Homo sapiens: one gene and its partners. The protein of the gene in region 2 interacts with the protein of the main gene of each other region in a biochemical or structural test. Each region holds a gene or a part of one and is shown on either strand. Other genes may lie near its edges.

Region 1 (3,755 bases), on a different chromosome or scaffold from region 2:
TAGTCTCTAAGACCCTTTTCAACCCTTGTGACTTAAGACTCTGTGAACTTTTACAAAGTATCTTGTGATCTGGACAGATGATCTGTTTTGTACCCTGCAGATGCATTTAAAAGAATAAATCTGGCAGAATGGTAACCTTGCTTCATTCTGACCATTTTATCAAAGTTACCAAGGACCCTAAGGAATACTTTCTCAAGTATAGTTTTAACACATAGGATTCCTAATTAATTGTTATTCTAATATTTGCTGAAGGTGTTTATATGCTATACAGTCATACACAGATTCTTCTTCAATTAATTTTAGTATATGCTTTTAACTTATGTTTGATAAAAAAATTATGCCAATATTGTTAGGTCGGTGATAGACTATATAAGTTTAGTAAAACTAGCAAAGGTAAGCGGTTAGGCTTCAACATTGTTGTGATCATGCAGTCATCAACTTTGTTTAGAAATTTTGCATTTATCTCCCCTGACCTCAGTTTGTTAAATGGGTTTATTTTTACAGAATCGTACTCATAATCAGCTCTGCATACATCTGAAGAACAAAAACATCAACGTCTTTTGTCCAGCCTCTTTTTCTTCTGCTGTTCCACCTTTCTAAACATACAATAAAGTCATGGGATAAAAATAATCGATGTATGTTACGGGCGCTTTAACCATCAGCTGCCTCTCGAATGGAAGAACAGTGGTAATGGATTAACATCCTATTTTGTTGTACTAAAGTGACAAATCGGAATAATATAATTGGTATGGCCATTAGGTTCAGTCCTTGAAGATAAGAAACTTGTTCTCTGTTTGTTGTCTTATTTGTGGTGGCACTCGTTTAATGGATTAACTGAGGTTGCTCAATGTTCAGTTTCTTTTCCAGAAATACAATGCTAGGTGTTTTGAAATAAAACTTATATAGCAATTGTTTAAAGTTATCAATTGTATATAAAATCACAGTAGCCTGCTAAATCATTGTATGTGTCTGTAGTATTCTATTCCCAGAAACTATTTGACCATGATAATTCAGTTTATATTCACCACATGAAAGAAAAATGGGTAACAGAAGAACCCTTAAAACAGGTTAATTTGGATTGTAACGTTCAGTGAAAGAAATTTCAACCCTTCATAGCCAGCGAAGAAATTTGCCTTGGAAGCCAAGTCAGTACCAGCTTACCTATTTGATTCAGTTGCTGTTTTCTCACTCTCTATATCCATTTGAAATTGATTTATTTTAGATGTTGTATACTTACGTTAGGCTTTCTGTTAATAGTGGTTTTTCTCCTGTTGACAGAGCCACCGGATTATGACACAGGATGAGGAAGATTAAGGATAATCAATTGACTAATTTCATTTAGAATATTATCAAACATTTCAACTAGGTATCAGAAAAAGGCTTTCTTTCATAAGACTATTTTAAATAGAAATTATTTCAACAATTAAAGTAATGTTGACCATCCCCCTCTCAGCTGAATAAAGAAAAATTTAGTTCAATTTATTGCAATTTAATTACAATACTACCTTCACAACATTTTCATGTGTTTTAAATAAATATTTTTTAATTGGCTAAAGGACATTCAAGCAAAGAAATGCTTTCTTTACTTAAAATGTCTATCTCATTTGCTGCCTTTTCACTAAGCCTTTACTTTGTTAATAAAAGTGTCCATTGTGTGATGTTTTTGATTTTACAGTTTGCTAAATCTTATTTTCTTGGAGTTGCTTTTTGGTAACAGCCCCATTGCTACTCCCCATTTTATTGTTTTACATCAATGCATGCTTCGTTGTGATCCCTCAAGATGTAACACTTGGTATGCTCGGTTGAGGATATGAAAAAATACTTCCGAAACCAGGAATTCAATGTATGTTTGTTTTATACTGTTTGATAAGAAAAGTAGGTCCAGCCTTAAGCAGCACAGATGCGCTGGTAGATGCATAGTCAGGAACTTTTTTTATTTCTTTTAGGTCTAGGGACAGGAGTGAATAGAAAGGGAGGAGAGCTCTATTATGTTCTATACACAGATTAGGAGATGACCTTACTGGGTACACCCCTCTAACCAGTGCTTACAGGTTAATGCATGTTAATGAATATTTTTGCAGTTGTAAAGCATAACAATTACAACTACACATCTATTTCTAAAGAATAAAACAGGACCATATTTATTTACTTCTGTCAACTATAGAAAGAAAGACCTTCAGCTGTATTTCCACAGATTTCTCCCAAGGAAAAGGCTAATATTAGTCACTACTGTTATCACATCCCTTTGTATAAGTTTTAAAAAGAGATGGAGGGAGATCTTCATTTCTTTGAGGAGATCAGTATTGTAACGTATGTGAATAGATGATAACAATTAATATTACTAAAAGTCCCACATGAGAGTCCTGACGCCCTCTCCATGCCCCACAGTAATGTGGCTTCTTTCATGGGTTTTTTTTTCTTCTTTTTAGCTGATCTCATCCTAAGCATGCTTTATTTTTCCTTGAAAGCTAGGTATTTATCAACTGCAGATGTTATTGAAAGAAAATAAAATTCAGTCTCAAGAGTAAACCCTGTGTCTTGTGTCTGTAGTTCAAAAGTCAGAAATGATTCTAATTTAAACAAAAAGATACTAAATATACAGAAGTTAAATTCGAACTAGCCACAGAATCATTTGTTTTTATGTCAGAATTTGCAAAGAGTGGAGTGGACAAAGCTCTGTATGGAAGACTGAACAACTGTAAATAGATGATATCCAAACTTAATTTGGCTAGGACTTCAATTTTAAAAATCAGTGTACCTAGGCAGTGCACAGCACGAAATAAGTGGCCCTTGCAGCTTCCCCGTTTAACCCACTGTGCTATAGTTGCGGGTGGAACAGTCAACCTTTCTAGTAGTTTATGATATTGCCCTCTTTGTATTCCCATTTTCTACAGTTTTTTCCGCAGACTTCTTTCTGCAAATTATTCAGCCTCCAAATGCAAATGAATGATATAAAAATAAGTAGGGAACATGGCAGAGAGTGGTGCTTCCCAGCCTCACAATGTGGGAATTTGACATAGGATGAGAGTCAGAGTATAGGTTTAAAAGATAAAATCTTTAGTTAATAATTTTGTATTTATTTATTCTAGATGTATGTATCTGAGGAAAGAAATCTGGTATTTTTGCTTTCCAATAAAGGGGATCAAAGTAATGGTTTTTCTCTCAGTTCTCTAAGCTGGTCTATGTTATAGCTCTAGCAGTATGGAAATGTGCTTTAAAATATGCTTACCTTTTGAATGATCATGGCTATATGTTGTTGAGATATTTGAAACTTACCTTGTTTTCACTTGTGCACTGTGAATGAACTTTGTATTATTTTTTTAAAACCTTCACATTACGTGTAGATATTATTGCAACTTATATTTTGCCTGAGCTTGATCAAAGGTCATTTGTGTAGATGAGTAATTAAAAAATATTTAAATCACATTATAATTCTATTATTGGAGAGCATCTTTTAAATTTTTTTCTGTTTTAACGAGGGAAAGAGAAACCTGTATACCTAGGGTCATTATTTGACCCCATAGTATAACCAGATTCATGGTCTAACAAGCTCTCAGTGTGGCTTTTCTCTGAATGCTTGAATTTCACATGCCTTGCATTTCACAGTTGTACTCCATGGTCAACCGGTGCTTTTTTTCACATCGTGGTACTTGTCAAAACATTTTGTTATTTTCCTTGGTAAAATATATAAAAAAGGTTTTCTAATTTCACTTTGCTGCCAAGGCTGTCATTTTCATTAATGCTGCCAACATGTT
Region 2 (3,655 bases):
ACAGTGAGGCGCGTCTGACCTCCTCTCCTGCTACGGCCAGGAACTCAAGCTTCCAAGGTTTCTCTGGGGTTCCCTTGACCAAGGGGAGGGCTCCATTCAGTTGGTTGCAGGGCTTAGAATTTTATTTTATATTTTATTTTTTTGAGATGGCATCTCGCTCTGTCACCCAGGCTGGAGTGCAGTGGCATGATCTCGGTTCACTACAACTTCTGCCTCCTGGGTTCCAGCAATTCTCCTGCCTCAGCCTCCCGAGTAGCTGGGATTACAGATGGGTGCCACCACAAATGGCTCATCTTTGTATTTTTAGTAGAGACGGGGTTTCACCATGTTGGCCAGGCTGGTCTCAAACTCCTAACTCAGGTGATCCACCCGCCTCAGCTTCCCAAAGTACTGGGATTACAGGCAGGAGCCACCGCGCCCAGCCTAGAATTTTATTTTATTTTTCTTAAGGAAGGCCTACAATTATTATTATTATTTTTTTTTTTTTGAGATGGAGTTTCGCTCTTGTTTCCCAGGCTGGAGTGCAATGGCCTAATCTCAGCTCACCGCAACCTCCGCCTCCCTGGTTCAAGCAATTCGCCTGCCTCAGCCTCCCGAGTATCTGAGATTATAGGCATGCACCATCACGCCCGGCTAATTTTGTATTTTTAGTAGATATGGGGTTTCTCCATGTTGGTCAGGCTGGTCTCAAACTCCTGACCTCAGGCGATCCACCCACCCGGCCTCCCAAAGTACTGGGATTACGGGCGTGAGCCACCATGACCAACTGGCCTACAAATTTTAAGCAGAAGAAATAAAAGAAAATTCATATGGAAAACCACAGTGGAGAAACCGCAAAACTCCAAAGACAAAAGTCTTAAAAAACAGGCAGAGAGGCCAGACACGGTGGCTCATGCCTGTCATCCCAGCACTTTGGGAGGCCGAGGCGGGTGGATCATGAGGTCAGGAGTTCGACACCAGCCTCACCAACATAGTGAAACCCCATCTCTACTAAAAATACAAAAATTAGCTGGGCATGGTGGCGCATGCCTGCAATCCCAGCTACTCAGGAGGATGAGGCAAGAGAATCGCTTGAACCTGAGAGGGGGAGGTTGCAATGAGCTGAGATCATACCACTGCACTCCAGCCTGGGCAACAGAGCAAGACTCTATCTCAAAAAAACAAAAAATCCAAACAACAACAACAAAAATAAAACAGGCAGAGAACAGATAGCAACAGTTTCAGAAATTTATATGAAAAGCCAAAAGATTCAGACCAGCCAACACAGTACTGAAGGAGAAGAACAAAGGTGGGGAATTAACATCAACCTGTTGCCCAAATTATCTATTTTATTCTCTTATTTATTTATTTATTTTGTTTTGAGATGGAGTCTCACTCTGTCACCCAGGCTGGAGTGCAGTGGTGCGATCTCAGCTCACAGCAACCTCCCCTCCCAGGTTCAAGCAATTCTTCTGCCTCAGCCTCCTGAGTAGCTGGGATTACAGGTGCACCACCACACCTGGCTAATTTTTGTATTTTTAGTAGAGATGGGATTTCACCATTTTGGCAGGCTGCTCTCAAGCTTCCCACCTCAGGTGACCCGCCTGTCTAGGCCTCCCAAAGTGCTGGAATTACAGGCGTGAGCCACTGTGCCCAGTCCCAAATAATCTCTTTTAAATGCAAATCCCTTCACATCATTTTCCTGCCTAAAAATCCTCCAATGCCTCCCATGATCGTCAGGATACAGTTCAAACCCTAACAGAGCAAGCAGGCCTCCCACACTCCAGGTCTCTGCTGCCAGAAACAGACTCTTACATCCAGACGGCCTCATCTCAAAGGTGCTTCCCAGCCTACTCTGTTCCTACAGCTGAGTCAGTGTAGTGTCCAGTACATATTTATAGTAAAATTCGTATGGCACCCAGTTGTAACTGTTGGATGACTCCACCTTATTTTAATTTCTATTCACATCCACAGAACCCAGCAAAGGGCCTGGCACTGAGGAGACTAAACTATTTGTTGAATAAATTGGTCATTCAATGAATGAGTTGACCAAAACAATAATACGTATATATCAAGTTTCTACTATGTGCTGGACTCACACTTCCTAATTTCAAAACTTACTACAAAGCTACAGTAACCAAAACATTATAGTGCAGGCACAAGGATATACAGATAACAATGGAATAGAATTGAGACTCTAGAAATAACCCATACACCTATGGCCAACTGATTTTCAACAACAATGCCAAGACCACAGTTTTTTTAAACAAATGGTGCTGGAACAATTACATATCCACATAAAAGAAAATGAAGCTGGATCCCTACCTTACAGCGCACACAAAAATTAACTCAAAATGGATCAAAGAACTAAATGTAAAAGCTTTAAACTATAAAACTCTTATAAGAAAACAGGAGTAAAACAATACCATTTCTCAGATATGATTCCAAAAGAGTGAGAAAATAAATAGACAAACTAGATTTCATCAAAATCAAAACTTCTATGCATCAAAAGACATCAACAAAGTAAAAAAGACAACCTACAGAATGACAGAAAATATTTGCAAATCATGTCTCTGATAAGGATCTAGCTTCCAGAATATATAAAGGACTCTCTTAACAATAAAAAAGACAACACAATTAAACAATGCGCAAAGGACTTCAATCTCCAAAGATATACAAATGGCCAAAAAGCACATGGAAAGATGTTTGATATCATGAATCATTAGGAAAATGCCAATCAGTGCTACAGTGGGTTACCACCTCCCACCCACTGGGATAGCTGTAATTAAAAAATGGAAAGTAAGTGTTGGGATGTGGAAAAGATGAAACCCTTGCCCACTGTTGGTGGAATGTAAAATGGTCCAGCTTCTGCAGATAACAGTATATTCGTTCCTCAAAAAGTTAAAACGGGCCGGGCGCAGTGGCTCTCGCCTGTAATCCCACACTTTGGGAGAAAGAGGCAGGCGGATCACGAGGTCAAGAGATCGAGACATCCTGGCCAACATGGTGAAACTACTCTACTAAATACAAAAATTAGCCGGGCGTGGTGGTGTGTGCCTGTAGTCCCAGCTACTCAGGAAGCTGAGGCAGGAGAATCGCTTGAACCCAGGAGGCGGATGGTACAGTGAGCCGAGATTGCGCCACTGCACTCCAGCCTGGTGATAAGAGCTAGACTCCGTCTCAAAACAAACAAACAAAAAAGTTAAACATGGGCAGGGCATGGTGGCTCACGCCTGTAATCTTAGCACTTTGGGAGGCCGAGGCGGGTGAACCACCTGAGGTCAGGAATGCAAGAGCAGCCTGGCCAACATGGTGAAACCCCATCTCTACTAGAAATACAAAAAACATTAGCTGGGCATGGTGGCAGGCACCTGTAATCCCAGCTTCTCAGGAGGCTGAGGCAGGAGAATCGCTTGAACCCGGGAGGCAGAGGTTGTATTGAGCCGAAATCGCGCCATTGCACTCCAGCCTGGGTGACAGTGTAAGACTGTGTCTCAAAAAATAAATAAATAAATATAGCTAAACGTGGAGTTACCCAGCAATACTTGTAGGTATCATACTCAAAAGAATAAAAAACAAGGACTCTCAAACGAATACTTGCATATGCTCCACAGCAGAACTATACACAAGAGCAGAAAGGTGGGACAACCCAAACACCCATCCATGTACAAACAAA
Region 3 (3,655 bases), on a different chromosome or scaffold from region 2:
TCAGCTGGGAGTGGTGGCATACTCCTGTAGTCCCAGCTACTCGGGAGGCTGAGGCAGGAGAATTGCTTGAATTTAGGAGGCGGAGGTTGCAGTGTGCCAAGATTGCTCCACTGTACTCCATCCTGGGCAACAGAGTGAGACTCCATCTCTCAAAAAAAAAAAAAAAAAGTGATTAAATCATGGTTCATCCATATGTTTGACTATTGTACAGCCATTAAATATGGTTTAAAATAGTGATCTATAGGAAAGCATAGATGAGACCAGGTGTGGTGGTTCACACCTATAATCCCATCGTTTTGGGAGGCTGAGGTGGGAGAATTGCTTGAGTCCCAGAGTTCAAGGCCAGCCTGGGCAACATGGCAAGATCACTGTCTTCAAAAAATTTAAAAAATTATTAGCCAGGTGTGATGGCATGAGTCCTTGATCCCAGTTACTTGGGAGGCTGAGGCAAGGGGATTGCATGAGCTTGAGCCCAGGAGTTTGAGGATGCAATCAGCTATGATCATGCCACTGCATTCCAGCCTGGACAACAGAGTGAGACTGTATCTCTCAAAAAAAAAAAGGTATAATTTTATATATATATATATATATCTGATACTACCTGCTCCCCCATTTCTTGAGAAATAATACACCAAAATACACGCAGTAATGCAATTGTATGTTGATTTTCCTTACTCTTTTATATGTATTTCATAATTTTCTACAGCATGATAATAAACATGTTTAGTTTTTTAAAAAGCAATCACCAAAGCACTCCCCAGGACCAACAAGAGTCTAGTAGAATTTATCTCTTTATTATTCTGTGACATGTCAATGGCTGAGGAGCAGGTTTCTATATGAGAGTTTGGGGGATCTCCTATCTTGTGTAGGTCTCAAGCGAGCAGGGCATCAACTCCAGCATGACCTGTTCTTTGATACCTTGAAGATTCAGTGTGGCTGCTCAGTGAAGGAGGTCTTGGGCAGGGCCGCTCAGCGGCAGATCAATTTTCGGCTTTTTGAGGATGGCACAGTAAGTCAAATTTTCAGTATTTTTACCAGTTTTTCAAATTTTCACATTGTTTCTCATTAAAAGGTTTTCTCTTTGTTTTTAAAAAATAAAAAGGAAAACTTTAGGCACAGTCCTATTTTTTCATAAACAAGTGTTATTTACATTATGCAACACTGTGGTCTTTTCAGTAAAGGATCATTCACCCTTTGCTTTCTTTTAGACTTAGTGTTTTCATATGTGGGACTGAAATGCACATATTTTGTTCATAATACTCCTCTCTTCACAGTATGACTGACTTTAAGATAAAGGCTCTGATAACTGATATACAGGTTAAGGGAAGAAAATCTCCTCAATATCTGATAAGTGGGTTAAGGGAAGAAAAAGATAAGCATGTCTAGCTTCAAAAGGAGTGTCCTGCAGCCATGGAATGTTAGAGTTCAGAGGTGGCTGGCAAAACTCGAAGCCTTGTGAAACCTGGGACTGGTCTAGCCACCTTCCTCTAAGCCTTAGCGTGGAGATAATTGTACCCTGATATTTTGGAATGATGGGATTTTGTTTAGCACTGTCTCCCCTTTGACCTCTCTTGGGATTCCTCCAGTGATGTGGAGTTTAGAGTTGATGTTTTCCATTTTGTTTGTGTTTCTGTAGCTTGGTATTTCTCTTGATGAAACAGTCAATGAAAAAGATCTGGACGATTTGTTGTGGATCTTTGGTTGTGAGTCATCTGCAGTAAGTAAAATAAAAACATGCGTTCCTCATCATAACTATTGGAGGTGGTAGCAAAAGTAGCTTATCCCCTGAGTGTGAGGGAGAAGGGGCCCAAGTGTGACACTGGTAGCTTGTTGTTAAAATTATTCCACTGACTATCCCTTGCTAGTCACTGCTGACAGCTGGAGGTCACTGCTGTAGGGCTCCAGCCAGTATTATGCACCCAGGCTAGTTGGAAAGATTGTTAATGGTGTTTCATTGAAAGTGCCTCTAGGCTGGGGATGGTGGCTCATGCCTGTAATCCCAGCACTTTGGGAGGTCAGGGGGGCGGGGGGGCAGATCACCTGAGGTCAGGAGTTCAAGACCAGCCTGACCAACATGGAGAAACCCCGTCTCCACTAAAAATACAAAATTAGCCAGGCATGGTGGCACATACCTGTAATCCCAGTTACTCAGGAGGCTGAGGTGGGAGAATTGCTTCAACCCAGGAGGCGGCGGTTGCAGTGAGCTGAGATTGCGCCATTGCACTCTAGCCTGGGCAGCAAGAGCAAAACTCCATCTCAAAAAAAGAAAAAAGAAAGAAACTGCCTCTACTACAAAGATGCAAGACATTTGTATCTTGGTTATGTCATTCATTGGAAAATTATGATATTCATTTAATACATATTTATTGAGGACCCAATATGTGTCAGGTGCTATGCTAGGCCCTGAAGACACAGTGGTGAATTAGACATGCTTCTTGTCCTCCTGGTGCTTACAGTTTATTAGGGATTCAGATAAACAAGCTTAAGATTAGAATCCAGGTGACTGATGTGTGAAGATGTTCTGGGAGCTCACAGGATGAGCTCCTTACCAAGAAGATAAGCAGGAGTTATCTAGACCAAGATGGCACAAGAGGGAAAGGAAGATGGGTCCGAGTGTTCTAGACACTGGAGAAAGCAGTCACAAAGGCTGGGAGAGGGAGTACATGAAAGCTATAAGCAGTTCAGTGTAATGAGTTGCTTTCTAAAATAATGAAGTAGTGGGGGAAAGCAAGAGAAAAGTTACCATTCCATGGGATGAGAGTGAAAGAGAGCCGACAGTAGCTACCTAGACCTGTGGCAAGGTGTTAATCACAACAGCCTACACTGCCTGGTGTGTATTAATCACTAAGTAAATATTTGTTAAATGGATAGATGAAAGGAAGTAGAAATACCTTCCAGAGTGCTGAGTGGTGCTGTCTTGCTTATCTGTGCCCTCTTTGAGAGAGGACTTCAAAGGGTTATACCAGATAACATTCATAAATGATCAAAGAAGCATCACAGTGTTCTCTTTTAAACCTCAATTAAACAGGACTGAGTTAGCTCCTTCTCTGTAGAACTCTGCACTAAATTTAATCACAGATATTTGGTTCATGCATTTGAGAAATGTTTCTGGAGCATCACTAAGGGGTCAAGAGGGCCATTATTTTAGTTCATTTGCATTGGAGTACCTGAGGCTAAATAATTTATAAATAAAATAGCTTTATTTGGCTCATGTTTCTGCAGGCTGTGCTGTGCAAGAAGCGTTTGCTTCTGGTGAGGGTTTCAGGAAACTTCCTCTCATGAAGGAAGGGGAAGAGGAGCAGGCATCACATGGCAAAAGAAAAAGGAAGAGAGAGAGAGGAGGGAGGTGCCAGGCTCTTTTTAACAATCACTTCTCATCAGTTCTCATGGGAACTAGTAGAGTGAGAACTCACTCATTACTGTGAAGACAGCGCCAAGCCCATCTTCAACACTGGGGATCACATTTCACCCTGAGATCTGGAGGGGACAAGTATTAAATCTGTATTAGTCATATTATTAGCCTGGCAAGGAATGAGGATCAAGCCATGTATTGATTATATATTCTGGATATTAAATCCTTATCAGATATATGACTTACATATATTTTCTTCCATTCTGTGGGTAGTCAGTCTCTTAACTTTCTTGATAATGTTCT

The links.
Region 1: the proteins of SIRT3 (region 2) and OPA1 form a complex in vitro, tested with the Homo sapiens proteins (one study listed by IntAct).
Region 3: of the proteins of SIRT3 (region 2) and GLDC, one has a biochemical effect on the other in vitro, tested with the Homo sapiens proteins (one study listed by BioGRID).

The regions. Positions count from the first base shown.
Region 1 is NC_000003.12:193,694,102-193,697,856, forward strand, and holds the end of OPA1 (dynamin-like GTPase OPA1, mitochondrial), read left to right. Parts: intron 1-504; 3' UTR 505-3,710; downstream 3,711-3,755. UniProt on the Homo sapiens protein: Dynamin-related GTPase that is essential for normal mitochondrial morphology by mediating fusion of the mitochondrial inner membranes, regulating cristae morphology and maintaining respiratory chain function.
Region 2 is NC_000011.10:226,284-229,938, forward strand, and holds part of SIRT3 (NAD-dependent protein deacetylase sirtuin-3, mitochondrial), read right to left. Parts: intron 1-3,655.
Region 3 is NC_000009.12:6,590,205-6,593,859, reverse strand, and holds part of GLDC (glycine dehydrogenase (decarboxylating), mitochondrial precursor), read left to right. Parts: intron 1-869; coding exon 870-1,009; intron 1,010-1,636; coding exon 1,637-1,717; intron 1,718-3,655. UniProt on the Homo sapiens protein: The glycine cleavage system catalyzes the degradation of glycine.